Linked DNA regions of Homo sapiens. The protein of the gene in region 3 purifies or fractionates together with the protein of the main gene of each other region. This does not show direct contact. Each region holds a gene or a part of one and is shown on either strand. Other genes may lie near its edges.

What was found. Proteins that work in one complex are often made in the same cells at the same time.
Region 1: the proteins of ZFYVE27 (region 3) and ACACB purify together in Homo sapiens (affinity purification with mass spectrometry; one large-scale study listed by BioGRID and IntAct). This does not show direct contact.
Region 2: the proteins of ZFYVE27 (region 3) and TMEM184B purify together in Homo sapiens (affinity purification with mass spectrometry; one large-scale study listed by BioGRID and IntAct). This does not show direct contact.
Region 4: the proteins of ZFYVE27 (region 3) and GOLGA5 purify together in Homo sapiens (affinity purification with mass spectrometry; 2 studies listed by BioGRID and IntAct, with this or other methods). This does not show direct contact.

Annotation. Positions count from the first base shown.
Region 1 is NC_000012.12:109,231,587-109,235,086, reverse strand, and holds part of ACACB (acetyl-CoA carboxylase 2), read right to left. Parts: intron 2,419-3,500; coding exon 2,281-2,418; intron 1,340-2,280; coding exon 1,240-1,339; intron 1,150-1,239; coding exon 1,042-1,149; intron 1-1,041. UniProt on the Homo sapiens protein: Mitochondrial enzyme that catalyzes the carboxylation of acetyl-CoA to malonyl-CoA and plays a central role in fatty acid metabolism.
Region 2 is NC_000022.11:38,224,511-38,228,010, reverse strand, and holds part of TMEM184B (transmembrane protein 184B), read left to right. Parts: intron 1-1,140; coding exon 1,141-1,232; intron 1,233-2,417; coding exon 2,418-2,587; intron 2,588-3,031; coding exon 3,032-3,226; intron 3,227-3,290; exon of another isoform or gene 3,291-3,500. UniProt on the Homo sapiens protein: May activate the MAP kinase signaling pathway.
Region 3 is NC_000010.11:97,740,128-97,743,627, reverse strand, and holds part of ZFYVE27 (protrudin), read right to left. Parts: intron 535-3,500; coding exon 464-534; intron 36-463; coding exon of another isoform or gene 1-35. UniProt on the Homo sapiens protein: Key regulator of RAB11-dependent vesicular trafficking during neurite extension through polarized membrane transport. Promotes axonal elongation and contributes to the establishment of neuronal cell polarity.
Region 4 is NC_000014.9:92,804,305-92,807,804, reverse strand, and holds part of GOLGA5 (golgin subfamily A member 5), read right to left. Parts: intron 1,070-3,500; coding exon 842-1,069; intron 1-841. UniProt on the Homo sapiens protein: Involved in maintaining Golgi structure. Stimulates the formation of Golgi stacks and ribbons. Involved in intra-Golgi retrograde transport.

The DNA of each region.
Region 1 (3,500 bases), on a different chromosome or scaffold from region 3:
GAGGGTTTTTGGGTTGGGGACAGAGGGGAGTGACTGCTAACAGGTACAGGGTTTTTCTATGGAGTGATGAGAATGTCCTAAAATTGATTCTGGTGATGGTTGTACAACCTGGTGAATATACTAAAAATATATTAAATTGTACACTTTTTTTCTTATTTCTTCTAAAAAAAAAAACAGGATACATGTGCAGAACGTGCAGGCTTGTTACACAGGTATATATGTGCCATGGTGGTTTGCTGCACCTACCGACCTGTCCTCTAAGTTCCCTCCCCTCGGCCCCCACCCCCCGACAGGCCCCGGTGTGCGTTGTTACCCTCCCTCTGCCCATGTGTTCTCAATGTTCAGCTCCCACTTATGAGTGAGCACATGCGGTGTTTGGTTTTCTGTTCTTGTGTTAGTTTGCTGAGGATGATGGCTTCCAGCTTCATCCATGTCCCCGCAAAGGACATGATCTCATTCTTTTTTATGGCTGCAAAACTGCACACTTTAAATGGGTGAATTGTGTAGTATGTCAATGATGTCTCAATAAAGCTGTTATTAAAAAGATAATTAAAAAATATCACATTGTATACTGTAAATATATATAATTTTTTTTGAGACAGGGTCTCGCTCTGTCCCCCAGGCTGAAATACAATGGCATCACAGGCTTACAGAGCAACCTGCTGTTATTGGCACACTTGGTCATCAATGTAAGTAGCCATTTTAAAACTGCCAGTTTCTGGATTATTCCAACAAAAACACTCCCAGAAAATCTCCAAACTATTTATTGGGTGTGCCCTCCGTACCTGGGACTGGCTAAGCCGTGTATATACTTTGTCATTGAATCATTGCAACACCGTGAGCGAGAGAAATGCTGACCCCACGTTCAGCCACATCTGCCCAAGGTCGCCAGCTATGAGGCGAGCAGAGCTAGAGTGGGAAGCCAGGTCTGTGGCTCTGAAGTACTCAGCACGCCTGCCTCCCCAAGGGCCGCCTCGACGAGCCCAGCCCCTCCTCCTTCTCCAAGAACCCCCACCAAAACCAGAGGCACGCCCAGAGTACCTTGGACTGTACGAATGTCCGTAAAATCGGCACCAGTGCCTCATCCTCCAGGTGGTCTGCACACTGGATGGACACATTCAGAATGTGGATGGGCTCTTCTCTGAGGCTCTGAGAGGGAGAAGCAAGGGGTAGGGCTGGAAAGCCTGGGGGCCACGGCCCACCTGCTCCCCAGGTTGCTCCCTGGGCTTAGACGCTTACCTTGCAGTCATCCTCGGAGTATAGGGAGGTGCGGGCCTCGCTGAAGAGGGGGGTGTCTTTGGGCACGTTGGCGAAGCAAGAGATGACTTCATCAAAATTTCTGGGGGTGCGGGTAGAGAGGGAGGGCTGAGGGGCTGCTGACCCATGGGGATGAGGTCAAGCTTCCAAGCCAGGCAGCAGGGAACGCCAGACCCTCCCAATTTCCCAGCCAACACCCTTTGATCTTATCCAACTCTACAGAGCTCAGGAGGTTCCCTGTCTACTTTGTCCAGAGCACCCGTGATGGGGTCCTTCCCAAAAGGGAAGAATGAACCTAAGTGATCTGTGATCAGGAATACAGGGAAGGATTCCAGCGCTTTCAGGCATCAGCTGGGCTTGAGATCAACTCTTGGCTCCCATTTTTACTGGCTGGGAGATCCTAGAAACCTCACCTCACCCCGAGTCAAAGAAAGGTAATAAGAGTAATCCCTATGCCTCATGAGGCTGTTGTGAAAATTCCACAAGATACTCCAAGCACAAAGCAGAACACACAGTGAAAGGCTGAAAAAAGACTATAACAGTAACTATTGAGAGCTAACATTTAGTCACTATATTATCTGCATACTAATTATACTTTAAATATGTTATTTCACATATGTTATCTCATTTAATTCTCATGGCGCACCTATGAAGTGAGTCCTTTATTATTCCCATTTTACAGATAAGAAAACGAAGGTATGGAGAGGTAAAAATATTTTGCTCAGTCTCTTAGTTAGAAAGCACATAGCCAGAATTCAAACCAGGCAAGCTGACACGCAGGCTCACACTCTTGGCTACGATGCTCTTATTATTCTGTTGTTATTGATGTGCTGTGCCAGGCAAGCTGACATGTAGGCTCATACTCTTGGCTACAATGCTATTATTATTCTGTTGTTATTGACATGCTGTGCCACGTGTCTGGGTCTCTCCCACCCCATCTGTCCAGTGAATTGGGGGGGGATTCAAGGGAAGTCTGCCCAGCCCCCATGCTCAGGGTGTTGGAGACCGGGCCATGCTGGGTACCTGGTGAAGTCCTCGAATCTCCTGAAGGCTACCATGGCTCCCATGCGCTGGCACAGTGGGGAGAAGCCGCTGTCCATGAAGAGCTCTGTGCTGTGCCTCAGCAGGTCAGGGTTGGTGATGCTGATGGGCACGGTCATCCTGTAAGGTGATGGCAAGTCGGGGATGAGGCAGCTGCTTGCAGACCCAACTCTACGAGCTGCTCCTACTCCTGAAGCTTCAGTGAGCTGGACCAGATTTAGAGCTCTTCCAAATGGGGGCTTAAAATGGGCAGGGGATGAGACAATGGCTGGGGCCGGGGCCTGAGGAGGGTCTCATCTGATCCCTCAGGACCTGGTGAAGAGTAAGAGCTCAACAAGTGTAGGAATCAATGATTCATGCATGAGAGTCCAGTCTCAACACAGTCCCGAGGGGAGCCCCAAGTGCTGAACTTGACCACAGAGAAGAAACACTCCCAGCATCAATTTCTCCTGGAGAAATCCACCAGCCCCAGGCAGCTGGTGAGGCAGTCAGGCTTGGTCCTGACGGACACTCCAGTCCTCTGCTCCCTGTAATCCCTCCATCAAACTTGCCCTTGGGACAAAGTCAGCAGCCTTCTGGAGTTTAGACAACGATGCTCCCAGAACTGGCTGCTCACCAGCAGCAAATCTCAATGGGCCACCTGAGGTTGTTAGAATTGGGCCTTGGAATCAGATACGGGAGGGGTAATGAAATGGTGTGCAGGAAGTCAGCACAGCAGGCCCCACACTGCTCTTCTGAGAAAGGAGACCTGCTTGCTTGCAAGGACAGCCCTTGGCTGGCCTCTGGGAACTTGGACTTGGGGAAGGTTCCTATCGTTCCCTGAAGGTGACAAGGGGGGCTCACTGTGCCTCAACTGTTTGCACAAACAGTGTGGTTTATGCTGAACACCTGCTTTCTTCTGCAAGCCTGAGATTTCGATGCAGAGCAGAGGGTGATGTGACCAGCCACCAATCCCTGGTGCGGGGCTGGAAGACAACCCTTCACTTGTGTTGTCACAACTCCTTGCTGGGGGAATGAAGTGCACCCTGCGTGAATCCACTGGGAGAGGACCCTGGCAGCACACCTGCTTTCCTCTGGACTTCACCCTGATGCCTTCTGCCTTGGCTAACTGCTTTGTATCCTTGCCCCCTAATAAGTCAGAGCTATAAGCATGACTATGTCCCGAGACCTGTGAGTTCTCCTAGGCGATGATCGAACCTGGG
Region 2 (3,500 bases), on a different chromosome or scaffold from region 3:
TTGCAGCTACACTAGTTGAGCCTTTTGGATTGGATTTAACCTCCCCCAGCTCCTCAGAAGGGGTCTTAGGGCTTAGATTTATTTGCTTTCTAGATAATGGTGATACTAGTGATGTTATGGGCACCATGGGTCCGCCCGTAGGGAATCGGGAAAACCTGGCTGAGGAACTCTTTCCGTGGCTCAGCCAGCTAGCAGGCGCCGTTAGTGCATGTACAGAGGCGGGAGACTCCCGAGAAGATGCTGCGCTTCCTGGCTGTGCCATCCCCGCAGCAGTGGCCCTGTGGTGTGGGGAGTGACTACATCCTTTTCATCAGGGAGTCTGTGCTCAGAGGCCAAGTGTCTGCCCAAGCTGTCCCCAGAGTTCAAACTCAGATTTTGAGACTCTGGAGTCCACGTGCTCTGGGCTCCTGCAGGTCACCTCCATCCCCAGAGTGACCTCTGCTGACCAGAAACCCTGGACCCAGGCCCAGAGAGTAGGGCTAGGAACCAGATCGGGGGTGGACATGGAGGATGGGAGGAGGCCCTCACCTGCGCCGGCTTCCCGGTGGCTGGTTCCTTGAGCAGGGCCCTAGCCTTGCCCCGGGCACCAAGGTCTCCAGGACCTGGCCCTGCCCATCTCCTCAGCCACCTCTCTAGTGCGCAGCCCCTTGCACCTGTCCACCCTCTGCCTCGGGGCCTTGGTGCAAGCTGCCCCCTCTGCCTGTCGAGCCTCTCATCTCCGGCACCCACCTGATGGTCCTGGCTCGAGAAGCTTCCTTGTGTGCATCTCCTGTCTCCCGCCTCCATCGTGCCCTGCCACACCATTCCTCCCTTCCTCCCTCCCTTCCTCCACATGCTCATATCACATACGGCATTGCGCTGGCTGCATCTCCTATATGTTCTGCCCCCCGCCCCGCGCAGACAGCAGTCCCCTGGGAGCAGGACACGTAGCCACCCCCCATCTCCTCCATCTCCTCTATCCTTCCATCCCCTCCATCCCTTCGTCCCTCCATCCCCTCCGTCCCTCCATCCCTCCGTCCTCTCCGTCTCCTTCATCCTCTCTGTCCCTCCATCCGGTACAGTTCCGTCTGCCAGAGGCAGGGCTTGCTTCATGCCTTCTGTGCTCCTCCTCCACACTCAACCTCCTTTTCCCCCCAACAGGCCACCCTGCAGTTCTGTGTGGTGAAGCCACTCATGGCGGTCAGCACTGTGGTCCTCCAGGCCTTCGGCAAGTACCGGGATGGGGACTTTGAGTAAGCAGCGGGTGCTCCCCGGGGTGTGTGGGAGGAGTGTTGGCGCAGGCTGGTGCCTTGGCTCAGGGAAGGGGGCAGCCAGAGTGGCCGCACAGCCATGACCTTCCTGGGTGTCTGGTGCTCACAACCCCCCTGAAGTCTGAGCCCAGCAGTGGACACCCTTGCAGTTGGCCCCGCTGCCAGCCCCGGAGTGAGCCATTGGCAGCAGTCACGTTCATGTCCAGGCTGCAGAGTGGTACCATGAAGGGATGGGCCACAAAGGGACAGTGACCACTGCTGAGGCAGGGAGCGAGAGGGTCAGAGCCCCAAGAGGTCGGCTCAAGTCCACAGATACAAAGCCCGTGCTGTGTAAATTGTCCACACCCATTTCATTCTGGGCTTAGTGAAAGTGACCCCGTGGCTGGGCACAGTGGTTCACGCCTGTAATCCTAGCACTTTGGGAGGCCAACGCGGGTAGATCACCTGAGGTCAGGAGTTCAAGACCAGCCTGGCCAACATGGTGAAACCCCATCACTACTAAAAATACAAAAAATTAACCGGGCGTGGTGACGGGTGCCTATAATCCCAGCTACTCGGGAGGCTGAGGCAGGAGAATCGCTTGAACCCAGGAGGCAGAGGTTGCGGTGAGCCAAGATCACGCCATTGCACTCTAGCCTGGGTGACAAGAACAAAACTCCATATCTAAAAAAAAAAAAAAAAAAAGTGACCATGTGTCTAGCCCTGTGCTTTCAAGCTCTCGGCACACACTGTCTGTGAACTGTGTAACAGCCCTGCCAGGGCAGGTGGGCAAAAGGAGGTCAGGGGGATGCAGCCGACCGAGTGAAAAGGCAGCAGAGCTGAGCAGCGTCACCTATTTTGACGCCTGTTATCTGAGTGTCAGGCTATGGCCTCGGGCCCGGCCCTGGCTTCCACACTGGTGTCCAACGTTAGGAGTGTGGGCACCAGGGCTTAGACAAGTCCACGAGCCACGCAGAGGCAGTAGAGCTGGTCTGGCCTGCAGGCGCACCCCATGTACCCCCACCCCTGTCTGTCGCTTTGATCACCCATTCTGACCCCTTCAGTGGCTCGTTGAGCTCTGCTGGAGGTGTGGGGCTGAGAGCCATGGGGACTGTGTGTGGTGCAGTCGAGGAGAGCCCCTTCCCTCCAAGGGTCTGTCCCAGCCAGAAAATGCTCCCCGTCCCGCAGCGTCACCAGTGGCTACCTCTACGTGACCATCATCTACAACATCTCCGTCAGCCTGGCCCTCTACGCCCTCTTCCTCTTCTACTTCGCCACCCGGGAGCTGCTCAGCCCCTACAGCCCCGTCCTCAAGTTCTTCATGGTCAAGTCCGTCATCTTTCTTTCCTTCTGGCAAGGTGAGCCCCCTCCCAGCACCTGGAGGCTGCCCATGCCACCCTGTCCTCTGCGCTTCCTGCTGCCCCTTCTGCTTATGGTCCCTGGTGCCTGTAGGGCCTGTTCAGAGGGGCCTCAGCCCACTGGGCACTTGCTGGGGGTGAAATCTGAGCCCTCGAGGGCCTTTCCCAGGGGCTAGGGAGAGCTTTGGTGGGGCCGCTACATGGATGAGAGGGCCCAGGAGACCCTGCGTAATTGCTGGCATCTCAGTTTCGGTGGCAAAGAGCTGGGAGAGTGGGGTTTCCGGAGGCTGTGGCCTTGTGTCGCTACCCCTGCCCTGCAGGAGCAGCTGTGGCCCTGCTCACATCCTCACTGGGGCATGTGGGCAGCTGAATGGGGCATTGTGGAAGAAGGGGGAGCAGGAAAGGAATCATTCTGGGTCCAGACACCCGTGCCTCCCCATCCAGGCATGCTCCTGGCCATCCTGGAGAAGTGTGGGGCCATCCCCAAAATCCACTCGGCCCGCGTGTCGGTGGGCGAGGGCACCGTGGCTGCCGGCTACCAGGACTTCATCATCTGTGTGGAGATGTTCTTTGCAGCCCTGGCCCTGCGGCACGCCTTCACCTACAAGGTCTATGCTGACAAGAGGCTGGACGCACAAGGTATGAGCCAGGGTCCTAGGCGACCCCCGCTGGGAGAAGCAGGGAGCCCCAAACATCCCAGGACCCTCCCACCTCCCAGCATCCTACAGGTGCGGCTGGGTCAGGACATGGGATCCCCACTCTATATGCAGGAATGGGGCCACAGAGGTCGGGGAAGAGCAGGTGCCACCAGCACGACCGATTCGGTCCTGGAAGCTCAGGCCACCTGTCCCTTGCAGCAGGTCCAAGTGTGGCGGTCCAGGGCTGATACAGACAGAGACTGTAATGAATAGAC
Region 3 (3,500 bases):
ACTCATGCCATGTCCCCAGATGACCCTTGAATCAGCTTAAAAACCAAAATGGAAAAAGGTCAATGCATCCTCAGCAGGAAGTCAAGAAGGAAACAACGATAATACTGAGAGCAGCTACAATGCACTGGCTGCCTCTTCCACGCCAGGCACTGTGCTAAGTATTATGCCTAGACTGCCGCATTCCTCACAAATACTCTAGGAGGAAAGCGTCATTTTTATCCTCCCTCTAGAGGTAAGGAAAATTAGGCCTTAACAGGGAAGTTCAATAATCTGCCCAAGGTCACAGCAGGCAGCTCAGCCTGGATCGTCCCTCTGGAGGCTGTTTCTGACTCCAAGCAGACACAGAGGAACACTAACTCCAGGGCAACAAGAGCAGCTCCCACACATAGGGTGGGGCTGCATCCAGGTGTTCTTCCCCCACATTCGTTCACAAAAACCACTGGCCCCTGAAGGCAGTTCTTACCCTCATTCAAAGTGAGGAACAAGACGTTGAGGCCCAGGCAGGTCAGCAAGGAACACAAAGGCATCTGCCACCTACAATACAGAGAGTCCTGATCACTACAGAGAGTCACTCCTCCAGCTGGGGAGGGGAGACCAGGCAGCACAGACGGGACATCAAACCAGAAGAGGAGGCCTGGAACACAGAAGGTCAAGGAGAAACGAAAAGGGGGCCTCTCACTTGGACTGGTGACCAGGAGAGGCGGTAAGATGTCACACATTAGCACCTGGGGTGAGGAAACTGGTAGGTCTGTAGTGCTTTCTCCCAAAAGGAAGAAGAATTTATAAAATATCAGTTAAGAAACCCAGTTAATACCATTTAACCTGTGTTTTGTAAGGTTGTATTCTCCTTAAGAGGTGACACTGACAAATGTTCTTAATATTTTCCTCTATTCTTTTTTTATAATTTCATAAGAATATATAATCATTGCACAAGATTCAACTAATACAGAAATCAAGAAAAAACAAATTGTGGACTTCTTTGGCCCCATTTGTGCCTTTATCTTCTTATGTCCATGTTTTTGAAAATTTGAGAGTTTATCTGAGAGTTTATTTTGAATACCTATTAATTCAAAAAGAGAAACAATAGTAAAGATTTTATTTTAATATATTAAAAATCAAGATGAAAGTAGGGTGCAGCATTCACTTAGCAATCACACCTTAAGTGAGCTGGAACAGACAGAAGCAAACACAGATACATCACTGCCACCACCACCACCACCACCAAATGGCAATGCAGAAGCCCCCAAACAGGGAACAAGGAAGACCAGAGACTCAGATTGCTGAGAACAAGCAAATGCTGCTGGCTCCGTCCCTGATAAAGGACATTTAGTAGGGAAAGAGGAGCACAGATGCAACAATGAAGCCACGACACCCAAATTCTAAAGGCAGTGTCAATATATAGGTGAGCCACTAGGAGAGAGACAAACATCAGAAAAATAAACAGGTAAATTGCTGGCAAGCATTGAATGTATTTTCTTTTTTTTTTTTTTTTTCTTTTGAGACAGAGTCTCGCTCTGTTGCCCAGACTAGAGTGCAGTGGCACAATCTTGGTTCACTACAACCCCCGCCTCCTGGGTTCAAGCGATTCTGTCTCAGCCTCCCTAGCAGCTGGGATTACAGGGGCACGCCACCACACCTGGCCAGTTTTTGTGTTTTCAGTAGGGATGGGGTGTTTCACTATGTTGGCCAGGCTGGTCTCAAACTCCTGACCTCAGGTGATCTGCCCACCCTGGCCTCCCAAAGTGCTGGGATTAAAGGCGTAAGCTACCGTGCTGGGGCTAAATATATTTTCTTGTGCTCTGGAGTATTTCAGAGTTACTGAATGAGGTTAACTAATTCATGCAGGGCTTTTACTTTTTTTTATTATTATACTTAAAGTTCTGGGATACATGTGCAGAACGTGCAGGTTTGTTACGTAGGTATACACGTGCCATGGTGGTTTGCTGCACCCATCAACCCATCATCTACCTCAGGTATTTCTCCTAATGCTATTCTTCCTCTAGCCCCCACCCCTCAATAGGCCATGGTGTGTGATGTTCCCCTCCCTGTGTCCATGTGTTCTCACTGTTCAACTCCCACTTATGAGTGAGAACATGTGGTGTTTGGTTTTCTGTTCCTGTGTTAGTTTGCCGAGAATGATGGTTTCCAGCTTCATCCATGTCCCTGCAAAGGACATGAACTTATCCTTTTTCATGGCTGCACATAGTATTCCATGGTGTATATGTGCCACGTTTTCTTTATCCAGTCTATCATTGATGGACATTTAGGTTGGTTCCAAGTCTTTGCTATTGTGAATAGTGCTGCAACAAACATACATGTGCATGTGTCTTTACAGCAGAATGATTTATAATCTTTTGGATATATACCCAGTAATGGGATTGCTGGGTAAAATGGTATTTCTGCTTCCAGATCCTTGAGGAATCGCCACATTGTCTTCCACAATGGTTGAACTAATGTACACTGCCACCAACAGTGTAAAGGGGCTTTTACTTTTTAATGAAATTTATGAGTAAGGGAATGAAATGACATCTGTGTCTTTCTCCTGAAATTCAACACACTCCACCTGTACCACCCTAATTACGCCTCAGAACCTCTAGTGGCAGCTACCAGGGTAAAAGCGAAATAAAAGCCAATCCCATTTTGGAAATAAAAACACCACCACTCAAGTCACTTTCATTTTAAAGCCTCTTCCCTTCTATAAAATGTCTTTACTGACACTTTGGTCCCAGGAGACCCAAGCAGTAGAGTAGCTGATCCCAGGAGAGAGTCTGTTAACAATTTACTGCAGCTCTAGGCTTCAGACCTAATAGCCAGAGCCCAAGATTAGGTCCCTCTTCAAAGTCAAATCCTCTTTACTAAGAAAAGAACAATCAAAAGCACAAACTAACGTGACAGCCACTTTCATGGACCAGTGCTCCCTCTCCCAGCAGCACAGAAACTGCAGGCTCCTGGGGGCTTTTAAGTCCAATGCTCCTCCTGCATCCTGCTTTAACCAATCCTACCACATCCTCCAATTTTTAATTCCATAAAATGGAAAAACCCTAACACATTAGTGTGCTAAGACGCACTACGGACTAGTAGAGGAAAAGGAGACGGGCAGGACAGGATACACTTAACTTTCGTACTTTGCCACAAAGAGCAACACACACATACAAAGAATGTGCCGGGGGCACAGCCTCTCTCCTAAAGAAGACCAAACTTCACATCATGCTGAGATTATAAAAGGAGAAAACAGCCTCTCCTCATACTGTCTCCCTACCCCTTGTGGGAAGAGCACAGTGATCTTACAGTAGAGAACACAGCTCTGGAACACTGACTAGCTCACCTCTACGGATACAGACATAAATTAGGTGAACAAGAAAAATGTAGGGCCTTTGCCAGAGAACTAGTAACAAAACATCCACTATTTCCAGACTGAGGCATGGATAAATACTCAATGGCATCCTCAGAGGTTAACGTAACTCCACTCACCCTGCTTCCTACCAGTCTCTCTCATGTAT
Region 4 (3,500 bases), on a different chromosome or scaffold from region 3:
TTACAATAACATTCACATCTTCCTCAGTCACTACCTCCATAATGAGATTATTTCCTTCTTAATTACCTATTTCTGAGGAACTTGAGGTTTTCTACTCCAGGGCCACCTCACTGCACAATTCCCAAGGGCACTGAACTGAATTCCATGTACCTTTTATATGCCCTAGAGCAGCAACACTGCAACTCTATTAGTGCCTACTACTTTGTTTAATGGAACAGCTTCCCTTGAAAGTTCAGAATAAATGAATGAACTAGACTACTACTAGTTTGTTCCTCTCAGTTCTTCAATTTCATGGTTCTTAAAGGATGACCAAAGAAGCGAATACTCTTATGTTTTGGGTTGGTGGGAGGATGACTGGTCCCATTTCCAAATCTGGGCAGTTTTTCTATGAAAATATCATTTTACAAGTCGCATCTAATTTCTCACAGTTTAAATGTAAATATTTCTAACAGTTTAAAGTTTTTAAGTTTATTATTTTATTTTATTTTTATTTATTTATTTTTGAGATAGAGTCTTGCTCTGCTGCCCAGACTAGAGTGCAGTAGTGCAATCTCGGTTCACTGCAACCTCCACCTCCCTGGTTCAAGCAACTCCCCTGCCTCAGCCTCCTGAGTGGCTGGGATTACAGGTGCCTGCAACCACATCTGACTAATTTTTTTGTATTTTTAGTAGACACAGGGTTTCACCATGTTGGCCAGACTGGTCTTGAACTCCTGACCTCAGGCAATCCGCCCGCCTCGGCCTCCCAAAGTGCTGGGATTACAGGCACGAGCCACTGCGTCCAGCCTTAAGTTTATTTTTAAAAGTTAAATTCCTAATCCTGAACAATTTAAGCCTCTACCTTCTTGAGTCTCTTTGGATCTTTGGAGTAACGAGGCCATTTCTTGATTTAAAGACTGAACTTCATTCCTCAGCAGCTGATTCTCCAGTCGAAGGTTAGACAGTTCATGTGATTTGCCATCATCATTAGGTGTTGGGGTGTGGTCAGGGCAGGCAGCATTTGATGACACATTTTCCTTTGAAGATTCCTCTTGACCTTCATGGCTAGAATCTGAGTTACTGGCAGCTTCTGTAAAAAAAAGAATACGTTTTTGTTACATTGGCGTGTTCATCACATATGCATTAACAACTTGCTTTGGTAGGATGCTCAAGTTGACTGCTACAGCTAAAACACCATAAAAAGTAAATTCTCAGCTAGGCGCGGTGGCTCATGCCTGTAATCCCAGCATTTTGGGAGGCCGAGGCAGGGAGATCACTTGAGGTCAGGAGTTTGAGACCAGCCTGACCAACACGGTGAAACCCCATCTCTACCAAAAATACAAAAATTAGCCAGGTGTGGTGGCACACACCTGTAGTGCCAGCTACTCAGGAGGCTGAGGCAGGAGAATCACTTGAGCCTGGGAGGCCAAAGGTGTTGCAGTGAGCCAAGATTGCACCACTGCACTCCAGCCTGGGCAACAGAGCGAGACTCCATCTCAAAAAAAATACATAAATAAACAAATTTTCAATAGTCTTCCCTCTGATTAAATTTCATTCTCATAAATGGGGCATATGGACCTCTAAGGATACTCAAGTCTGGATACACTGAATGAATGACAACAGACAGTACAACACCATTCTGGGGAGAACATCAGAGATCATGTGAGTGGTTGGGTTCAGGTAAAATGGGTTTGGATTTCCTTTTGTCTCCAAAATGCTTTTGGGAAAAAAAACCAGGAGAAGTCTCAAATACTGAAAAATTGGGAAGGCACAATAGAGTAGCTGCAGGTTTCAAGGCAAGAAGAGTAATAACAGGTCACTACAAGGTTTTTTGTTTTTTTTTTTTAATCAAACTGGAATCTAACATGTCTTACCCAAAGAGATAGAGACACATGAATTCAGATTAATCTTGTTTTTGTTACTAAATATAATGCAAGTATACTTTTAAATTACTCTAAAAATTATGTGATGAAAATGAACTATATATCTAAATAATAAAACTGACTAAAACAATCAGTATATGGGTAAAAGACTTGATACTTTATAAGGTTATATAAACAAATATCAATAATCAAATGAAAAAGTTCTGAACATGTTTAGTCATCAAGGAAATGCAAATTAAAATCACAATGAGAACCAACAGACACCCCCTAGAATGGCTAAAATTAAAAACACCAAATGTTGGTGACACTGCAGAGCAACTAGACCTCTCACTGCTGGTGGGACTATAAAATGGTACAATCACTGGGGGAAAAGGTTTTACAATTTCTTATGAAATTAAACATGCAGCTACCGTTTCACCCAGCAATTCCACTCCTAGGTATTTATACAAGAGAAATGAAAACATTTGCCCACAAAAAAGCAAGTACAAAAATGTTTATAGCAGTTTTATTCACAATAATCCAAAACTGGAAACAAACCCAATGTCCATAAAAGAGAATAGATAAACTGTGGTACAGCCGTATAATAGAGTACTACATAATAAAACAGAATAAAAAAAGAACAGTAACATGGATGAATCTCACTAACAGTTCAGTAAAAGAAGCCAGATTAGAAAGTATATATACTATATGATTCAATTTATATGAAGTTTTAGAACAAGCAAAACTAAGGAGAGAAAAATCAGAGCACTGGGTGCTTTCAGGGACGGGGTGAGGAGATTAAGTGGAAAGGAACATGAGGAACTTTCTGGGGCAAAGGAAATCTATAACACGGTAAAGGTGTGGGTTACACAGGTATTGCCATTCGTCATATAGCTAAGATTTGTGTGCATCTTAATATATGTACATTTTACCTAAAAGAAAAAATAACCACAAAAAGCTAATAATCAAGTGGGGTAGGGAATGGGCACCTAAGACGTGACTTAAAAATGGGAGTGTTGGCAGGGCGTGGTGGCTCACGCCTGTAATCCCAGCACTTTGGGAGGCTGAGGCAGGCGGATCACAAGGTCAGGAGTTTGAGACCAGCCTGGCCAACATAGTGAAACCCTGTTTCTACTAAAAATTAGCTGGGCATGGTGGCGGGTGCCTGTAATCTCAGCTACTTCGGAGGCTGAGGCAGGAGAATCGCTTGAACCTGGGAGGCAGAGGTTGCAATGAGCTGAGACTGCACCACTGCACTCCAGCCTGGGCAAAAGGTGAGACCCTGTCTCAAAAAAAAAAAAAAAAAAAGAAAGAAATTATTACATTTTTAAGGTGATAATGGTGTGAACATTTGCTTTTAGAGTATTTTTAGAGTAAGAAAATGAAATGTTTATAGAAAAAATGATATAAGATCTGTGATTTGCTTCAAATTAATTGTGCGGAGGGTGCAGGTGAAGAAAGTGATGGGAAATGGGAGGGTATAAATGAAACATGAATGGCCATGAGTGATTACTGTAGTTGGATAATAGGAGGTCATTACGTTCTATTTTGGTATGTTTGAAATTTCTAAAATAAAGATTTTAAAAAGAAATGAAGTAGGCCAGGCGTGGTGGCTCACGCCTGTAATCCCAGCACTTTGGGAGGCCGAGGAGAAAGGAC